Linked DNA regions of Homo sapiens: regions 1, 3 and 4 are each linked to region 2. The links come from fine-mapping of genetic effects on gene expression. A gene starts in region 2. Each other region holds a variant in brackets. All regions are shown on one strand. Distances are between the middles of the regions.

Region 1 (5,151 bases), 140 kb before region 2:
CCTGCTGTAACTACAAGAGCAGCACGTGAGACTTCTTTCCACATGGATTGGTAGTTCTGTCAAGTGGAATTTAATCCTTCCAAATCAGAAGGATTATTTTGGATAAGCCATTAAAATTGTTAATTAAAATGTTAGTGTCTGATTGCCATTATTCTCTGCTTATAAGAATTCTCTCAGATCCTGGTGTGTGGCACCTCTCTTTCCGCACTCCCATCTAACCCAAGTGAAACCCAGGGCCTTGCTATCACCTTCATTCCTGCCTGTGCCTGAGGAACCCTCCAAAGGTGCGCATGAGGCCTAAAATGAAAAGGGCATTTAAAGACACACTCGAAGGTGAAAGAAGACAGAATATTTGGACTGAATATTTCTGGAGCCTCTAGCATATGCAAGGTAACTTTGGTGAAGAAGAATTAGACATGGTCATTGTCCTCAAGCAGCTTACCATCTAAAGTGAGAAAGCACAAAAGTTTAGACAGTCCTAGAAGGTGTATTTGCATAGTTCTCCAGGTGAGAAACATCATCAAGTAATAGAAATTGATTGCCTGTTAGTGAAACAGACTATAAGGACTCCAAATGTCCAGAAAAGGAAAGGATCCCTGTAGGCTGAGTGGTCTGAGGAGACTTTACTGAACCAAGAGGTAAGGCTGGATGGGATTTGAGCAGGATTTGTGACAGAAGACGGGAGTTTCCAAGAGGGAAGAACCCATGAATCAGAATATGGAGATGAGAATGCTCAGGCCTCTTTGAATACTATACTGAAAGGACCGGCTCATCAAGAGTTTGAGGGTTTGGAAAGGAGAATTAGGGGTAAATTTCTTTGAGTAAGTTGGTCACAGTGGCCTAGAGCCCTGAATTCCAGCAGCTTGGCCTGTGTGGGTGATGGAGGATCTGAGAAAGTTTTAGAGCTGAGGTAGGAAGAGCCCTTCAGGCTATTGACTATTAGAGCCCATTATTGAACACCCATTGTGTTCACTCTAATCCTTACAGAACCCTGCAAGGCAGATACAATCACTTTCACCATGGCTTGAAGAACTGCAGTTCCCAGGGAAGGCAAGGGGGTGGGGGGCATCAAATGGAGGCTTATCAGATGCAAGATGAGGCTCTCTCCAACACACCATTTTCCCTCCCTGTTGCTATAGTGGGGCATGAAGCCAGGACGCCTGCACGAGATGTGGAAAGATTAAGAAAGATGTGAGGAAAACATGAAGGAAAAACTGACAAGACCGGGTGAGCAATTACATTTGGGAGGAGACTAAAAAAGAAGAGTTAAATAAAGCTTCATTTTATTCTTTAAGCAAGAACTTACTGTTACTACCATTGTCAGCTCTTTGAAGAGAGAACAAACGACTGTAACATTGTCCCGCTACTCAGAACATTACAGTCAAGTATGAGATGTTATAAATATACATTAATATGTATAATATAGGAAAGAATTAGATAAATGCAATAAAGGCAACATATACCGTCCTGTAGAAGATTAGAAGGAGAAAAATCTAAGTGGTAAAATCAAGCATTAACTGAAAAGAAAATATTTGATCTGGACTTTAAGAAATGGATACAGCTTTGACTGGCAGGGAGAGGAAGTGAGAAGAGGATTGTCTAGCTCAGAGTTTCCCCACCTTGGCACTATTGATATTTTGGGTGGATAATTCTTTGCTGGGGGCGGGGGCTGTCCTGTGCATTGTAGAATGTTTAGCAGCATCTCTGGCCCCTACTTGCTAGATACAGCTCCCAGCTGTGACAACCAAAAATGTCTCCAGACATTGCTGAATTTCCCTTGGAGGGCAACCTTGGTTAAGAACCACTGTTCTAATCTAAGAGGATGATGTGAGAAAGAGAGTATGTTTGGGGAATAAAGAGGCATCTGTATCAGCCTGTTTGAAAATGTATTTCTTGGAACATTAGTGTCTTGTGAGATAAGTGAT[A/G]GTCCCTTAAACAGGATTCATGGTCAAATAGCATTGAGAAATACCACATACTTTTCCCCTCAATTGGAGGCTCACAATGTACATTAGAATAGTAAAGGCTTTGAGAGATTGTGCAAGAAAGCTGTCTGACTTTGGTTAAATTTAATTACCACAGAACATTTTTATTCAAGAAATAGTATTAGCCTCCTGAAGGGCTCTATTGTATGGCAGAACACAACTTGGAAAATGATTTGTATTCAACCAAAATATAGGGTGTATGAAAGGTTTAAAGCTGAAGAAGTACAGATAGAGTCTAGAACCAGATTCAAAGGGCTTGGAACTAAGCTAAGAAGTCTGAATTTTATGTAGTCAACAAGAGGGAGGTAACCAGCAGGTAACATGATTAAAACTATGCTTTATTCATTCAACAGATATTAAACAACATTAGTCTGGTGGCAGCAAGCCAAATAGATTAGAAGATAGAGAAACAGGAACTAAAGCACCTTGTTACTGTAAAAGCAATAACTTAAGAGTGATAATGACGAAAAGAAGGGGAACATGTAAACATGTAACAAATATCTAGAGATTAACAGAATATAATGTCTGATTTGTTGGATGGTGGAACAAGAAAAGGAGTCAATGATGACTATGACTTTTTAGGCCCAAGTTACTAGGAGCTTCTTGATATCTTTAACAGAGAAAGAATAGTAAGGAAAAGTAGCAGATTTGGGGAGAAAGTAACTCACTTTTGGACATTTTGAGTTTGAGATGTTGGCAGGACATCCAGGAATAGGTATCCAGGGGGTAGCTGGAATTATGAGTGAAGAGTGAAAATTCAATTGCAAATAAATTTTGTGGTGTTACCTTCCTTAAGGTAATAATATAAGTTGTGAATTGAATGTGGTAACTAATGGGAGAAGAGTAGGGAAAGAAGAAAAGGAGAAGGCTCAGAACAGGGACTTGGAGAATATCTACATTGAAAGAGAGAACTATCATATAATAATCTTAATATGCTATGGTTTGGCTGTATCCCCACCCAAATCTCATCTTGAACTGTAGCTCCCATAATTCCCATGTGTTGTGGGAGGGACCCAGTGGGAGATAACTGAATCATAAAGGTGGTTTCCCTAATACTGTTCTCATGGTAGTGAATAAGTCTCACAAAATCTGATAATTTTATCTTGGCTCTCATTCCCTCTTGCCTGCCACCATGGTAGAAGTCCCTTTGCTCTTCCTTCATCTTCTACCATGATTTTGAGGCCTTCCCAGCCATGTGGAACTGTGAGTCAATTAAACCTCTTTCCTTTATAAATTACCCAGTCTCAGTATGTCTTTATTAGCAGTGTGAGAACAGACTAATACATAATAGATGCAGAAAAAGCATTTGATTAAATTCAATATACATTGATGACAAAATAGAAGAGAACTTGCTTAATCTGATAAAAGATATCTACAAGAAAATCTATAGCAAACATCATATTTAATCATCCAATATTAAAATCCTTTCCCTGAGATTGGTAATGACACAGAGATGCCCCCATTACCACTTTTATTCAGCATCATTTCAGAGGCCTTAGCCAGTGCAAGAAGGCAAGAAAAAAAATGTAAAAGGATTGGGAAAGAAGAAATAAAACCACCATTTTTATTTTCAGAAGTCCAATAAAATCTACAGATGAGCTATTAGAATTAATAAATTCAATAAATTTGCTGGCTATAAAGTCAATACATAAAAATCAATTATATTTCAAAATATCCACAACAAATAATTAGAAAGCTAATTTTAAAACTTGATGCCATTTACAATAGCATTAATAGAATCAAACATTTAGGAATAAATTCAACAAATAAGTAAAAGATCTCTATACATAAACTATAAACATTTTCTGACATTAAAGAAAATCTAAATAAATCTAAGAAAATCTAAATAAATCTAAATAATACTTGTGGATTGGAACACATAGTGTAAAAATGTCAATTTCCCTTCAAATTCATCCATAGATTCAATGTAAACCTCAAAGATATCTTGGCAGGCTTATTTTGTTTTGTTTGCATGTGGAATACAAAGGACCAAGAGTGTTTAGGACAATCTTGAAGAACATCACTGAAACACTTACACTAGATAACACAAGTAATAAGAATGCTGGATAATTCAGTCACTGTGGTATTGGCAGAAAGAGAGACAAGTAGATCAATGGAACAGAATAGAGTACAAAAACTAGACCAACACTTGATTTATAACAAAGATGGTATTGTACAGAAGGGAAAGGACAGTCTGCTTAATGAGTGGTTCTGGGCCAATAGATATGAGAATGGAAAAAACCTCATCTTAATCTATCTCACATCATTAAAAAAAAATCCAGCTGGATAGTAGATCTAAAATGTGAAAAGTGAAACAATTACAATTTAAAAGATAACACAGGAGATATCTTTATGATAGTAAGGTATGCAAAGATTTCTTACCAGGACATGAAAATCACCAACCAGAAGAGAAAACGTTTATAAATTAGACTATTTAAAATAAAGAATTTCTGTTCATCAATAGATACCATTTTAAGATAGTGAAAAGGGAAGCAAGCCACAAACTGAAAGAAGAGATATGCAATATATATTTCTAACAAAGGACTCATTCAGAGTGAATAAAGAAGTCCTTTAAGTTACTGAGAGAAAAAAAAAAAAACAGGAAAGGAAAGTATTTAAAAAATGGGCAAGAGACTTAGCATGTACATCACAAGAGATTATCCAGATGGCCAATATGCATCTGAAAAGGTAGTCAGTCTAATTATTCATCAAGAAAATGCAAATGTCAACCACAATTAAATACCATTTTTTAACTTGCCAGAATGGCCAATAGTAAACAATTAAGTATTGGTGAGGATGTGGAACAACTAGAAGTCTCATACTCTGTTGGTGGGTATGCAAACTGGTACAACTTTGGAAAACTGTTTGGCAGCATCTGCTAAAGCTGAACATATGCATACCTGTGACTCAGACATTCTACTCCTAGGTATATAGTCAACAGAAATGCATGCATGTGTACATAAAAAGACATGTTAAAAACTTTATAGGAGTACTATTCATAATAAAAACAAGAAACAACACAAATGTCCTTCAATATTTATAATTTGTTATATAAGTAAATGATAATAAATTTGCTTAATGAAATATTATAAAGCATTGAAAATTAATTAAATATTGCTCTATCCAATAACATGGATGATTCTCACAAAATAATATTAAGCAAAATAGG
Region 2 (5,151 bases):
CACTCACTCCTTTGGTCAACAATAATCAAAAGGAACATCAAGGAAAACCTGCCAGAAAACCTTTCTCCTTGACTCCTGGCATGTGCCACAGAAGAGGTGGGGGCAGGAAGGGCTGGCCCACATGCTTCTGATGACAAACCAGGGTAGAACAAGCCGAGTTTGGAGAGCAGAGGTAGAGAAACACACAGCCCTATTTTATTGTATTTGGGAGAGAAGAAAAGGATGGGGAAAGTACGGACAATTCTAAACTATGGAATTTTTACTCCCACTCCACTAATTCGGGAAAAGGCTCCTCCACCACCACTTATCTTTCAAAAGCTTTCTTGATTATTAAACACAGAATGTCAGTCGGTACAATTACGCAGTCGGGCCAGAGCCGGACCGTCCAGCTCTTCTGTGAGTTCCGTCTGCCTGTGCTCCAGGCAGTAGTGAAAGAACCCAGGACAACGCGTTCCCAGTAAGCGCCTTCAATCTGCAGCACAATGTAAATATTCATAGGCGCCCGAGACCAACACCCGAGAGCAGAGGAAAAACGCCTGTATTTGAATGTTCATTTTCAGTTTCTCTCACTGTCCCAAAACCAAGAAAAAAAAAAAAAAAAGCACATGCGTGCCAAAGGATGCTCTAGAGAGAGGGAAGGGAGCGCCGGCTGCTCCTTCCAGGAAGACAACTGTGGGTCAGTTGAAGGGGGTCACAGACGGCCGAATCCCGGAGGTCGTTTCTGTCCACACGGAAGTTTGAAAACCGACCATTAAGTCCGGAAGAAATTCGGCCTGGGGGGTCCTGGGACACCACTTCTTTCAAGTTTGGATACGTAGTAGTTCACCAGCTCTCTGCGTTAGACAGCTGTCCGCAGCCTCCTTACATCCCCAACCCGGCACCCCGGTCCCCGCCCGAGCCACTCACCAACAAGCCACCGGCTCAGCCGCCACCGGCTGGGCCGCGAATCCCCGGGGAGCCGCGCTGGGGTCAGCAAACTGAACGCGAGTGGGCGGCCCACGGGCCGCGCGGAGCCCCAGCTGCGTCCTTATCAGCGCCGGGCAGAAGGGCGTCGCGGCGCGAGGGTGGGGCGCCGGTGCGCGCTGAGATCGACGCCCACACGCGCCGCGCCAGCTCTGCGGCGGGGAGAGAAGCCGCGGCCTGCGGGGCGGGGACTGCGGGGCGGGCGCCCAGCGCGGGCGTTGCACGACCCTCGGCCTTCCGCAGCGCCGACCGCTCTCCCGTCCGGCGGCTGCAGCTGCTGGGTCGGCCGCCGCACCCGCTCGCCCATTCCCGGCCCCTCCAGTTGGAGGGGGTCTCGGCCCCGCCCCCCTCCCCGAGGGGCCCACGCTGGAAAGCCCACGCTCCCCACGCCACGCCCCCCAGGGCGCCAGCCCCTCTGCGGGGGTTTAGCACGCTGCGCCCAGAAGTTGGGTGGGAGACGGCTAACTAGGGGAGGTGTCCGTGTGAATGAAACGAAAGGGGGGGTCTTCCGGCTCGCAGACACCGGGTCTGCGGCGGCCGCGCGCTCCCAACCCACCCGGAGCCTCCGCCGCGACATCTTCCCACGTCCCCCATCCAGGTCGCAGGCGCGGGGGAAAAGCCTCACGGCCGCACTGCGGCTCTGCCAAAAGGGAGCCGGGTCGAGCCGCTGAGAAAAACAGAGGGGAGACTCCTGGCGTTTGAAACCGGTCAGAACCCGCTCTCCAAGAGCTGGGGACACCCCTTGTTTGGAGGCTGATCCCCAGCCCACCCGCTTCCTCCCCCTCCCCACACTCCTGCAGGCGCGGGGCGCAACTTGCAATCCGAACTTCGCGCGGCCGGAGCAAGTTTGTCGGGGCGAGAAGCGCCTGGTCCTCGGTCCGCACCACCGCACTAGGTCCCCGCCACCGCCCCACCACTGTGTCAGGGGCCAGGCGTGGCCCCCGGCTGGCTAGGGAACCGAGCGCGGCGCCGCGGCTGCGCATTCCGTGCGGGACGCCGCTGTCTCCCAAGGGTCGGGATAAACTAGGGGGCGGTTGATCTGAAAGTCTTAGCCACGACTAATAGTCAACCGCCCAGGTGCGACCCGCAGCAGCCTTGGCGATGCAGCTCGTTCTCCAGACGCGGGTCCACACCGGCGCGTCCTCGCCTCCAGGGACCGATCGCTGTTCTCCGTGGCCGGGTAAGGGCGGCCGCCAAAGTCACCGGGGTGGATGTGGAGGGAACTGGAACCTCCTCTCCAGCTTTCCCGGTGAGGCTCGGAGGAAGCCGAGACCCGGCACCCATCAGCCGCGCTTCTCGGCGCCTCAGCCTCGGGTCCCGGACAACACCCCAACCCTGACCCTCCCGAGCGGCGGGGCTCCAGCTCCCCGTGTCCCGCGCCGCGGTCGCCCCCGCCTCGGCCGCCCGACCCGCACTCACCCGCGGCCAGCGCGCCCCCGCTCCCGGCGCGCAGACCGCTGCAGCCTCCCGCCGTTGTGTCGGCGTAGCCGCCTCCTCCCGGTCACTGCAGGCCCAGCCAACCCTGAGCGCGAGGGGGCAGGGCGGGGCGGGGCGCAGCGGCAGCCTCAGGTAACAAAGCTGCGGCCTCGCTGCTCCTGGCCGGCCGGGAAGGGCAGCGCGCCCTTTCCTGCTCCGCCCCTCCCTCGCCTCCCCTTCCACCCTACGCGCGCCACCGTCACCGCCACGCGCTCACCTTCACCTGCGCGGGGCCCCGGGGGAGACGCCTCGGGGCACACTGCTTCCCGCACCCGAAGGCTGGTGCGGGGCTAGGCCGGGGGCCACCGAGAGAAGTAGGGGCGGCAGGAGACGGAGATAGCTGGGCTGCCCAGAAGAGCCAGGTGTCCTCGGGGAACGGGCGAGAGGAGGCGCCAAGCTGGCTTCTGAACCTGCAAGTGCCTTTCACAAAGGAGCCTTTGCGACAGCCTCCCAGGCACCCTCTCTTGTGCACACGGGCGCGCACACACTCTTATATACACGCGCGCACACACACACACACACCCGCACACGCCCCCCGACGCACGCGCCAGACCACCCTCTGCCCCAACACTTGCTTCTCCCTGGAGAGCTAGCAGCACTTGGGCGAACTGACCTGTCCCAACCCCTACAGCTGAAACCTGGCTGCGCTAGAGCTTCGCAAAGGTCAGCTCCTCCCTGGGGCCTGCCAAGCTGTAAATTTGTTACCGTTTTTTATTTTGTTTTTGTTTTTAATTCTCAATGATGATGGTAACAGAAACCTTTAGGTTGTATTAAAGCGTAAAAAGACCCCTCAAAAATTTTGCCAGGCCTCATCGAATGAACGCACGCTGTCTGGGAAAGGCACACTCCTCACAGAAAGAAACAGGGGAATCGATTTAATCACATTTTTTTTTTCTTCAAAGTGACTTGGGGCGCCAGTGAGAAGCAAGTAGTCAAAGAAAACATCCCGGGCAAACCGGCTGACCGAAAATCCACTGTCGGGGTAGGGAGGCGCCCTCTACGGGGATGAAGTCATCGCTACCTTTGACTCTTTGATCCTAGATAACCGACCAAGACGTTTCCAGCCTAATGCCTGACGCCTTTTGCTTCCTCCATCCTGGTCCTCAGTCCCTGAACTCCCAGGACAGAATTCCTGACCTCCTTGGTCAAGCCTTGGATCGAGAAAGAGAAACTATTAGTGTAAACAAACCAATCAACCCCAAAACCAAAACTGTGCCTGCCAATAGCCCATTTCTTGGCCATTGATGGTGCATGAAGAGAAATGGATCCAATTAAGAAAATCTTAAAATCTTAAGGAATAAGAAAATGTAATAAAGAGAAAGACAATGTCATGCTCAGGGAGCTAATATGAATCCCAAAGGAATATTGACTGTTCAGGCTCAAGTTAAATTACAGCAGATCGAAAGTGAGGAGTTGAGTGGCATCTTCTTTTCTCTTACTGTCGACCTTGTTAAATGGGGAGTCCACACCCCTTGCCTACTCCTCCCTCCTCAACCCCGTGACAGTGGGCCTCCCCCCAACTGTATTGAGCATGCACTCTAAAACAGTTACTTTTTGAGAAGTCAAGTCTGGTGACCCATTCTCAGCCCCTCATCCCTTTGATCTCCTTGGCAGCATCCTACCCTAAGGCCTTCTCTATGCTTCTCTGGACTTCTCTGCTGACCCTTCTCTTCCTTTGAGGACAGTAACAAGGTTTTTCCAACTCTCGATCTCCCAGTATCCCAAAGAAATACCTTCTGATTTCAAACTGAACCCATCCAGATGTCGTGGGACCTGAAGCTTGTATAACTCCTGGGGGAACTTCTTAAAGGAAAGCAATAAAAACTTACAAACATAATACTAGACATGTATCCTTGGAAGGGCCCAGGGAAAATGAGGGGCTTGGAAATTTGAGCTTCAAGGTATATCTCCGGGTTTCTCTTCAATGTCAGGGACTCTTGAATCCATATTATCGTTGTAAAATTTCAAGTCCAAATAAAAATATCCAAAAATCAACTCATCTTTCCCTCAAAACTAGTACTCTTCCCACACCCACCACCTCCCCCTCTTTACCTAAGACCTGGTTTTTCTGTTTGAAATCCTAGCTTTTCCTTTGCTTGTCTCTCTTAAATTCTTTAAAATTCAAGTATTTGCTAAATTTGCTGCTCTTTCCCAAGTAACCTGTTTTATTTTTCACATGCACCATCACTGCAGTAACCCCAAGTAGTGGAAGAGGGAACAAGTATTTATCTGCTGTTGGCCACATATCAGGCACCACACTTAATTCTCACCATGATCCTATAAGCATTCTGATTTCCTAGCTTAGAGAAGTTAAATTGGATACCTACATCCACTACCTTGGTGTTCTTTCTGCTTCTCTCTTCTTCCTAAATCCATCCCAAAACTGCTGTCAGGTCACTGTTTTTAAAAGTCTGATTTCATCACACTACCTACCTCTTCAAAACCTTCTGCAGATTCCCATGTGCTCCTACAGGAAGAAGGCAGCATTCTTCAGTCTGACAATCCGGCAGCATCCTACGTTTATCTCCCACAATTGGATGCGTCCCATTTCACTCAAGCAGTGGGACGTACTGCCCCTGAATATGTCATGCTTATTTTGACTTTTTTTTTTTTTTTTTTTTTTGAGACGGGGTCTCACTGTCGCCAGGCTGGAATGCAGTGGAGCGATCTCAGCTCACTGCAACCTCTGCCTCCCAGGTTCAAGCGATTCTC
Region 3 (5,151 bases), 31 kb before region 2:
TGGTGGTGTTTGTAACAAGAAAATTAGTTTGGTTTTACTTGAAGGAAAATACAGAGCACATGTTTAATAATAAAAATAAACTCACAGCAGAGCCAAACAAAATCAAGCATCCGCCGAAGGCCATAATATTTTGAAGGAGCTGAATTAAGAAGCGAAGGCTTCAGCTGGCACAACCTCAGGAGCACACTGTTCCTCCCCAGTGCCAAGGGCAGCCCTGCTACATGATTCCACCTCACAGGTCTCAAAACACTAACAACACTTCAGGTAGCATAGCCTTTCGCTGAAGACTAAAAGCATGAGATGGTGCCTTTTTTTTTTTTTTTAATAAGGAAGATAAAAGAAGTATGTCAGACTATGCGATTAGTGAGTCACAGTGAGCTGTCACAAACATGTCCACTCTGCTGTTTTTTGTTGATGTTATTTGGAGCAGCTCCCGACACACCCTGTGGGCCCTGCGTACTCCTGGTGTTGACGGGCACAGCTCTCATGTGTTCTGCTGCTCTCATTATAAAACATGCCAAAACGCAGCTTGTTTCTTCAACATAAACAAGTGAAGAAATGACAGCCCAAGTTCTAAGGCATCTTGATTTCTGTGGAACTTTGTTCTGTTATCCGAAAGTTTAACTGGTTTAGAAACAAAACTTGAGTTGCCAGGTATAGCCCAAGTGCAACTCCATGGCTGATACCAGTTCACCACAGTAAACTGCAATCGTGCAAACTGAGCAGTGAACAACAGGAGCCTCGCAGAAGCACTGTCCCTAAACAAATACATCAGGCTTGGGCTGGGCGCGGTGGCTCACACCTGTAATCCCAGCACTTTGGGAGGCCCAGTGAGTGCGGATCACCTGAGGTCGGGAGTTTGAGAGCAGCCTGGCCAACATGGCAAAACCGCGTCTCTACTGAAAAAATACAAAAATTAGCCAGGTGTGGTGGTGCATGCCTGTAGCCCCCAGCTACTCGGGAGGCTGAGGCAGGAGAATTGCTTGAACTAGGGAGGCGGAGGTTGCAGTTTGCCGAGATCGCACCATTATACTCCAGCCTGGGTGACAGAGCAAGACTCCCTCTCAAGACAAACAAACAAACAAGTCAAACAAACGAAGAGACAAAAAAAAAAAATATATCAGGCTTAGATCACATTTAACATCCTCTGCAAAGAATGGGCATGGAAATACCAAGTTCCTCTGACTAACTTGGAGAAAAAAAATATGAATGGGAACTGCTGCTTCCACAAATACACCCATGCAAATTTAACCAGCCCCGGGGTGCTGCTGGGAGATGAGATTAGAGGGACTGACTTGAGTCACCTACAAACCTGAAGAAAATCTTCCATCTGCTGACAAAGTTCACCATCCCGCTGGATGTTTTCTTTTAGTGATTTTGTCCTGACAAACAGCAAGTGCAGTTCTGCCTCCGTGTTCTCCAGAGATAATCTAAAAGAAGAAAGGGGAGAGTGGGCAGTTGGAACAAGGAAGCCATGTGTCATGTAGGTATATTAAATAAGACTAACTGTTGTTCAACCTTGGAAACAGAAGGGGAGAGCTACTGTGATGATATTTATCTACCCCTGTATTTAGATCTTTTGTGTTTCCTCCTGTTTTAAGAAGTGATTCGTTTCTAAAGACATATACTGGTTCAAAGAGAGCAGGTTGTAACTGTACTCTTGATGGTAAGATAAACAAAACCATGGGATCTGCAAACGTTTTCATAAACTAGCTCTGAACACCTTTATGCAATAAGCATTACAAACTAAATGCCAGCGGCTTCCGGGATTCATATGCTTTCCATGGGCCACTAAACACAAATAGGAAACTCTAACCCACAAGAAGCAAGGCAATATATGTTGATAATTCTAACACTAAGGGTAACAGTGAGAAAATAGCAGATTCCATGAAAATAGCAGATTCCACAGGTGGCCAGAGCAGGCTTTCTATATTTTACAGAGAACTAAAACATAGCTAACAAATGTGCAACTTTTTTTTTTTTGAGACACAATCTCCCTCTGTCACTCAGGCTGGATTGCAGTGGCCTGATCTTGGCTCACTGCAACCTCTGCCTCCTGGGTTCAAGCAATTCTCATGCCTCAGCCTCCAGAGTAGTTGGGATTATAGGCATGTGCCATCATGCCCAGCTTAATTTTTGTATTTTTAGTGGAGACGGGGTTTCGCCATGTTGGCCAGGCTGGTCTAGAACCCCTGAGCTCAAATGATCTGCCCACCTCAGCCTCCCAAAGTGCTAGGATTACAGGTGTGAGCCACCAGGCCCAGCTGATTTTTATTATTATTATTATTTAAAGAGACAGTCTCACTCTGTTGCCCAAGCTGAAGAGCAGTGGCAAGATCATGGCTCACTGCAGCACTGACCTCCTGGGCTCAGGTGATCCTCTCACCACAGCCTTCCAAGTA[A/G]TTGGGATCACAGGTGTGCGCCACCACACCCAGCTAATTTTTAAATTTTTTGTAGAGACAGGGTCTTACTATGTTGCCCAGACTGGTCTCAAACTACTGGTCTCAAGCAGTCTTCCTGCCTTGGCCTCCCAAAGTGCTGGGATCACAGGCATGAGCCACCACAGCCAGCCCTAATTCTGCAAATTAACAGTTGGATTGATTGCAATGCTTTTGTTATATACATCAAATCAAGATAGGCAGAATGTGGGCCTGGCATGGTAGCTCAGGCCTGTAATCCCAGCACTTTGAGAGGGTGGGGCGGGCAGATCACCTAAGGTCAGAAGTTCGAGACCAGCCTGGCCAGTATGGTGAAACCCTGTCTCTACTAAAAATACAAAAAAATTAACTGGGCATGGTGGCGGGTGCCTGTAGTCCCAGCTACTTGGGAGGCCGATGCAGGAGAATCACTTGAACCCAGGAGGCAGAGATTACAATGAGCCAAGATTGCACCACTGAACTCCAGCCTGGGTGACACAGCGAGGCTCTATCTCAAAAAAAACAAAAGATAGGCAGAATGTGAATGATGGTTTTGTTACCCAGAAAACTGAGTAGGCGAAACCTAAAATGCATGTGAAATTCATAAATTAGGATGCATTCATGCTTCCATTGTCAATTCAAATGTTTCTTTGTGCAATAAAGTTTTCCACCTTCACTGGTCACCGGCACATATCTGAGACCTGTTTGTATTTCCCAAGTGTATTTCACCTTCCATTTCAAATAAACAAGCTTGCTGAATAGGATTTTTCTAAGACAATATCTAGCTCCAATCCAGCTCTGACCAGAAACGCCATTTCAAAAATATAATGCTAATTTCTATCTATATATCTCTTAGGAATATTTTTATACTAATTACAGTAAAAATGTTCCCACACAAATTTCTTTCAGTAAGTCAAAAGTTCCTATCTTATAAGATGTCCATTCTTTTTAGAGAACAATCTAGAGATCTGTAAACATGAATTATAAACTGTTTACACCTCTGAACTGATAATCCCACTTTGGGAAAGACATGTAATCTGTGGCTAGATATTCATAGAATCAGTAACTTTTGAGGTACAGGCCAGTGGCAGGGCTGTGAGCTATGGTTCATTTATTTATATGCATATGGTTCACAGATGTCATAGTTGGATACACTCAGTAAGTATATGCTAGGAACTGGCTTGACACATGAGCGGTGGCTGAACCTGCTCATGAGAACCAACTGTGGGTGTCTCTTCCTAATTTGCATTCAGTAATGTATGTCAGCAGCTTGACATCAGCCATGGTTACGGTATTTACAACACGGAAATCAGCAAATGCTACAAATCAGGACTTTTTTCTCCAACAGCTGGTTATTGAACATTTACCGTGGGATGTGTGGATGTAATATAAATTTTAAAACACATATACAAAAGTCAAAATAGTATATACACACAGAGTCTAGCTACATTAAGATACATATCTACATTAGGATCAGAAGCAAATTAGAGTGATGTAATTAGAGCCTTATGTTTGGCAGATACTTTCTCTGTATGTGCCTTTCTCTGTGAGTGACTAATTTAAAGTAAAATCATTTCACAGCTCTTGGTACGGTTACAAACTCTTTTAATGCAAAGGAAAATAAATGTACCATGTTAGATTCTACAAGGAAACAGTGAAATGTGGCCATGAAAGTTTGATTGATATATACCAACTCCCAAGGAAATAGGTGGTGCTGTTTAAGCTCTATCTCTTGGGCGTGGAGGGATTTGAAATTATTAATCCATATTTTTTATACTGATGATATTCATTAGAATAGACTGAAATAGTTTCTTTAGTTTACAAATAAAGATTAATTTTTCAAAACCCCCAAATTCCAAAGGTGCACACACACCTGTGTTAAGCAAATGAAGGACAGTCTGAAAGTTCAATGAAACAAAACCTTTTAGACTTCAAACTGGAATCTAAAAGTTTTAACTATTTATCAGTTTTCATAAAAAGGTAAAGAATCTTGAATTCTCACAATTCACTTGCTCACCTAGCAGTCTTCTGAACATGATGCAATTTTTCTGAAAAGTTTAGAAGAATGGTATCTTTCTTTTGGGCTTCCTGGAACAAAAACAGAATTTTATCTCACTATGTTGATAAAACTGGAAGGAAATAATTTTCTTAGGGCTTAAAGGAATCTTAAAATCACTGCTCCTGTTTTTAAACTTGACACATTCAAAGCATTTCACTGAGACATGAACTCTGATACTCTTAGTAAGATTTGCTAGAACTCTCCTACTCTCAAGATACATTTACCTTTCCAGAGCAATTGATCTTGACACAAAATACAATTAATGAGCATTTGGCTGCAGCTCAGCAGGGCCCCTTGTTTCTGAAAGAATCCAATATATCCTGCTTAAATACCACCCATACCTGTGAGCATGCCTTTAAATGAGCGAGATACCTTCAGCTGTTAAACCAGTTTGCAAACAGAGTTTAATCAGAAGGTACAGGAGCCATGGCAGTGTTTGGATTCTTCACCTGTTCAGGAGGTGAGAGGAAGGCAAGTGGGAAGGAAGCAATGACTGACCCAGGAGGCTTCGCCACATGGACAGAGACCAAGTTACCCAGAGGGCCTGGACACTTGGATTCAGGAGAGCTTTGCCCGAATACTATCCACGACCCTTGCTGGGCAAGGAACACATTTTCTTCTTTTAATGCCTGAAAATTAACCTTTCAATTAAGTCCCAAGCTAAACATGGCCCTT
Region 4 (5,151 bases), 83 kb before region 2:
GGAACTTTGCTCGTCCCTGATGGGTCAGGCCTGTCAATCTATCACATGATTTTTAGCAGTGCCTCCTTCATAAAGCCTCCCCACTCCCCACCCAAATCCGAATTCATTGCTCCTCAAGAAGTCAGATAGCATGTTGCTTACACACTGGGCCTTCACCACATCCTTTCATGTTATTTATATGCGGTGTGGCTATTTACTTTCACATCTGTCTCCCTCTTTAGAGAATGCACTGTTCCCAGGACCCTTGTGCCGTTCGCCACAGCACCTAGCACAGACTAAATGCCACATAAGTGTTTGAGATACTGGTTTGAATTAGGAGTGGCCTGGAGGTGGGAAAGCAGGATGAGAACGAAGCCCCACTGGGACAAGCGACGTGTCCGTGTGTGCGTGTGTGCACATGGCGGTGGTGAGCAGGCATTTCTGCCATCTCTGCCCATCTGAATGTAGGGAATGAAGATGAGTGCTGGTTGGAAGTGGGGAAGCCATGAAGCAGAGCAGCTTGGGCTAAGGGTGGCCACGCTGCAGCCACGACAGGCCTCCCCGGGGCTCTGGCTCTCATCACATCAGGCTCTTTGGCTCTATTCAAACAGAGGCTGCCGGCTGGAACTTTAGCTTCTCACTGGGACTCTGAAAGAATGTGAGTCTATGCAGTTATCCCCAAGGCACTTGGCTGGAAGAGACCCCGGAAGGTTTCTAATTCAGTCTTTTCCCTGACAAATGGATAAAGCAACCTAACACTGAGCTCTCTTCCCATGGCCTCCTGATGGTGATACTGTCCACAGAGCAGGGATGCCGCAGAACCCAAGCGGAACGTGTGGGTCTGCCCTGAGGGGGCTTCCCAGAGCCCTGCTCTGGCTCTGCTGTGCCCTGGCAGAGGGGCCTGGGCTGGAGCTCAAGCAGGGCAAGGACTGTGGATCCAGATCCGGGTTTTGGGGAGTCCAAATCTTACCCAGTTGGGGGGAGCATTTTTTAAGAGAAAGCATACAAAATTGCAAACACAAAATGAAGTACAGGGCTTTGGAAGGAGCCTGCACAAGGAAGGATCCGAATCTTACACTTCACAAGCTTCACAATAAACTAACCTCTGGGGCAACCTAATGAGCTAGGAGGGTGTGTTGGTTTCCTGCCTATTAGCTGCTGTGCCACAGTACTGCAAATCGGATGGATTAAAACAGAGGAAATATATTTTCCCACAGTTCCAGAGGCTTCGAGACTTAGGTCAAGGTGCTGGCAGGGCCATGCCGCCTCTGAAAGCCACAGGGGAGTCCTTCCTTGACTCTTCCTAGCTTCTGCGGGCTTGCTGGCAGTCTTTGGGGTTTCTAGGCTTGCAGCCTCGTCACTCCAGTCTTTGCCTTCGTCCTCCCGCCATGTTCTCCCTGTGTGTCTGTGTTCACGTGGCTGTGTACATATAAGGACACCAGTCATCTAGGATTAGGGGCTCCCCCTACTCCAGTATGACTCCATCTAACTGACCACATCGGCAACAACCCTCTTTCCAAATGAGGTCACATTCTGAGGAATTGGGGTAAGAGCTTCTCTATTTCAACATATCTCTAGTTTGGGGATGGAGCACACAATTCAAACCATAACAGGTGCAGGAGGAGAGTGGGGAAGGAGGGGAGTGGGGCAGTAGTGAAGCGGTAGAAGCTGGGGGATCATTCTGGAGACAGGGTTGGGAGGTCACCAGTGGCTGTTCCACTAGGCTCTCTGGGTGAGGACAGCTTCCATCCCTTCCTGGGGCCACCTGGAGGACACAGAATCTCAGCAGACACCCTGCCAGCCGGCGCTGCTGCTTCATCTTTACTCCCACAGACTCGCAGCATCACATTGCTGATCCCAAGGAACCTTGGTGATTTCCCTTGGAAGCCTTACGCATCCCGGTGAAGGCAGGCCCATGCGTGTGGGTGGAGCATGTGCTGGAGTGAGGTCCACTGAAGCTCTGGTCCCCAGCAATTGAGAGTTCACAGCCTGGTGAAACACCAGGAATGAAGATCTGCCAACAAAACCACGTGTCGAAGCTTCCGGAGCCACAGAGCCATGAAGGTCAACTCCAAAATACTCACCACGCTCAGTGAAAGGGCGGATAAACAGGTGGTTAAAGCAGCAGGTAATTTTGGCTGGTCTGCATCACTGTTTATGGTTTTATTTCCTCTAAGAGATTTGCCCTCTTAATTATGTTTTGCTTAATCTCAAAAATGAATTTACGTTCCCTGAGCAGCCTGCAGCACAGGGGTGGGAGAAGCCCAAAGTGTTCTGGGTGGCAGGGAGAAGCCAGATGGTATTAAAAACAGACAGATCATAACAAAGTGGGTGCTCCACATGCATTCAGTAAACACAGCCGGCCCAGCAAGGTCAACCATGGGCTGGTCTGGTTGCTTCAACATTCTAATTAACTGGGTGCCAGAGACGCCGTGCCATTTTCAGAGAATCAAGTTCCAGTGAAATA[C/A]ACCCAAGGTTAAAGTGCTCCAGAACACGGCCCACCCGTGCTGGTTTGTCGACACCTCAGAATCCAGCAGGGGCCCAGGGACATCGCCCTGCGTGTAAATTACCCATGGATACAGTGCTGCACTTGTGAGCCATGTGGGGGACTGGCTACATCCTGCTGGCCCTGTGATATAACATAGAAGCTGCCTCTTAGTCACACCAGTCGATGATAGGAACAACAGGCTTTGGGGTCGTTTGGATTCTAGATTAAAAAGCAAGGTTAAAATGGAGAGTTGATTGCATTTGTATTTGAGGTCATGGAACAGAGCGCACTGGTTGACCAGTTGTGTTAAGAGCATGTTTGAGCTTGCCAAGCAGGGAAAGGCAGGCTCTGTGTGACCCAGCCCCACCCCCACCCACACGCAGGAGAAGAAGAAGGACAGCCTCTCTGCCCCTTGGATGGTGCCATTTAAGGCTCTTCTGTGACTCTTTAGTTGGCTTTTGTGCCACCCTGCTGTGGGCTCATGGGCTTTCACTCAAAGAATCAAAACCTCCGTCCCCTCTGCCTTTTAGTCCCCCAGACCTTAAGTCTCACTTTTCTGTAGGGTGACAGTTCTCCTTCTCCCACACTTGTGCTCAGCAGCCATCTTTCAGAAAGCAGGGCTGCCCTTCAGAGTCCACTGCCCACAGCAACCTCCTGACAGTCCTGCTCTCAGCTCCAGCCCCAGGAGACCCACAAAACAGCAGCTCACAGATATGCACAGTCTGCCGCCTTAAAAGCATGAAACAGGTTGTGGCCCATGGGAAAGCTTTTTTTGCAGCTGTCACCAAGCTGGCATGAGATGAGTGCTTGCAGTATGGTGGCTGAAAGCTGTTTAGTGTTGTCTGCTTTGTGTATGTCACCTAACTGTGGCCTTGCATTTATTCTACTTGGTGACTGCCAAAGCACTGCAAACTGGAAACATCTGCTAGATAATTGATATGTGATCAATAGGGACCATGTCTATGTTTGCTCTCATTCTAACCCCCAGTGACTGGCATAGTGCCCCGCACAGAGGAGGCCCTTTTAGTTAAATGAATAAAAGAGTAAATGAACAAATGACATCGAAATGAGAGGCATGGCGATCAGAACAGAAAAAACCCAGGTGAACCAAAGAAACTGGGCAAGGCTCCATGAAGGAGTGTGATCCTGTTTGGCTCTGCATCCCCACCCAAATCTCACCTAGAATTGTAATCTTCACGTGTCAAGGGAGGACCTGGTGGGAGGTGATTGGATCATGGGGGCGGTTTCCCCCGTGGTGTTCTCCTGATAGTAAGTTCTCATGAGATCTGATGGTTTTAAAAGTGTAGTACCTCCCCCCTACCTCCTACTGCCATGTAAGATGTGTCTTGCTTCCCTTTTGGCTTCCGCCATGATTGTAAATTTCCTGAGACCTCTCCAGCCATGTGGAACTGTGAGTCAACTAAACCTCTTTCCTTTATAAATGACTCAGTCTCAGGTAGTTCTTTATAGCAGTGTGAAAATGGACTAATACAGAGTAAGACCTGGGCTGGGCAACTGAGACTAGTGGGATTTAACCCAGAAATGAGACGGAGAAACCAGAGCCATTTCTGTCAAATATCTTCCAGGGAGAAAAAGGCCTGTGCCACTAGGGATGTTGGGGGCTCAGTTAGTTAACAACCCTCCTTCCCTAGTCTCAGGGTGGTTATTTCTCCATGGGACCAAGCTAGATCCTGACATGGAAGCTTTAGGAATTCGAGATCATACAGCACAGCCAGCTGGTAGAGGCCAACAAGAGGCAAGGAAGGCAAAGAGATATAATCGTCCAGTGGGGGACTCTGTCACTAAGGTATTGGTAGTTAACTAGTCATCTGTGCTACCAGAGTCCAAAAGATGCCTCCACTCCAGACCCCAAGAGCAATAGTGGGTGCAAGCAATGAGTGTGAATTCATGTTGTGCTTAGGCAATGGGGCCCTGAGTGGCTGTGCTCTACGCTCTGGAGGAGAAGGATTAAGGAAAGTCTACATCATCCTCCTCCTTAGTACCCTGGACTCTTAACCACTTGCACTGACAGGTTTTCCACTCGGGCTTCTTGGATTTCCCCTAAGGAAATTTTTCAACAGCACCACCTACTCCCAGTGTCCCATTTTGGTTCTCACACAGGCTCATCCATTCACACATACTTATCCAGCACCTGCCACGTGCAAAGCTCTCTCCCAGGAACGGGCATGGTGCAAACCAGGCAGGGTCCCTGCCTTCATAGAACTTACAGTCTACAGCAAGGAAAACAGAGAACAAAGAAGGAGAGGGAAGGAAAGAAGGAAGGAGAGAAAAGGAAGGAAGGAAGGAAGGAAGAGGATGGGAAGGAAGGAGGAAGGGAGGGAGGGAGGGAGGGATTAATTGCTGGTGTTTGCTGGTATGAAAGGCACAATAAAGAACATCAGCCAGGACAGCATGACAGAGCATGTAATAACGTGCGTGGCAACTTTAGATACGGTGGTTGGTAAAAGAAGGTAGCGCTGAAGAAGTGACATTTGAACTGAAAGCCATAGGTAAAGAAAACTCATGCCAAACGTCAATAAAGAAAGATAGGGAATAAAGTTTTGAAATTATCCCAATTAGACACTGAGATGTATTGTTATTAACAACAACTAACCAAAGCGGCTTAACTAAGTTAGAGGCTTATTTCTCTCACATAAAATAAATATATAAGTAAGCAGCCCTGA

Which allele goes with the higher level. Positions count from the first base shown, and alleles are read on the strand shown. Sizes are in standard deviations (SD) of each study's normalised expression.
As copies of A replace G in region 1, the expression in tibial nerve of the gene that starts at base 2,469 in region 2 goes up (small effect, 0.21 SD a copy in GTEx).
For the expression in esophagus mucosa of the gene that starts at base 2,469 in region 2, allele G in region 3 goes with a higher level than allele A (small effect, 0.14 SD a copy in GTEx).
For the expression in cerebellum of the gene that starts at base 2,469 in region 2, allele A in region 4 goes with a higher level than allele C (small effect, 0.30 SD a copy in GTEx).

Evidence for each region. PIP is the estimated chance that this variant, and not a neighbour inherited with it, causes the effect.
Region 1: its variant is the best candidate, but not a certain one, in a credible set for the expression of FHDC1 in tibial nerve (GTEx, PIP 0.86).
Region 3: its variant is the best candidate, but not a certain one, in a credible set for the expression of FHDC1 in esophagus mucosa (GTEx, PIP 0.84).
Region 4: its variant is the best candidate, but not a certain one, in a credible set for the expression of FHDC1 in cerebellum (GTEx, PIP 0.90).

The regions. Positions count from the first base shown.
Region 1 is chr4:153,071,886-153,077,036 of GRCh38, reverse strand. No RefSeq gene overlaps it. Among named protein-coding and RNA genes, the nearest start is that of TRIM2, 130 kb to the left of the region's middle. The variant A/G (reference allele first, on the strand shown) is at 1,926.
Region 2 is chr4:152,933,641-152,938,791 of GRCh38, reverse strand. FHDC1 (FH2 domain containing 1) reads right to left here and starts at 2,469. Exons shown (of 12, transcript NM_001371116.1): 1 at 2,383-2,469. It overlaps LOC729870 (a long non-coding RNA gene), which reads left to right and starts at 1,955. Exons shown (of 2, transcript NR_136614.1): 1 at 1,955-2,143; 2 at 3,342-4,276. RefSeq lists silencers at 832-1,091, 2,424-2,513.
Region 3 is chr4:152,964,259-152,969,409 of GRCh38, reverse strand. It overlaps FHDC1 (FH2 domain containing 1), which reads right to left. Exons shown (of 12, transcript NM_001371116.1): 9 at 4,435-4,505; 10 at 1,313-1,430. Among named protein-coding and RNA genes, the nearest start is that of FHDC1, 31 kb to the right of the region's middle. The variant A/G (reference allele first, on the strand shown) is at 2,403.
Region 4 is chr4:153,016,960-153,022,110 of GRCh38, reverse strand. No RefSeq gene overlaps it. Among named protein-coding and RNA genes, the nearest start is that of FHDC1, 83 kb to the right of the region's middle. RefSeq lists an enhancer at 141-936. The variant C/A (reference allele first, on the strand shown) is at 2,447.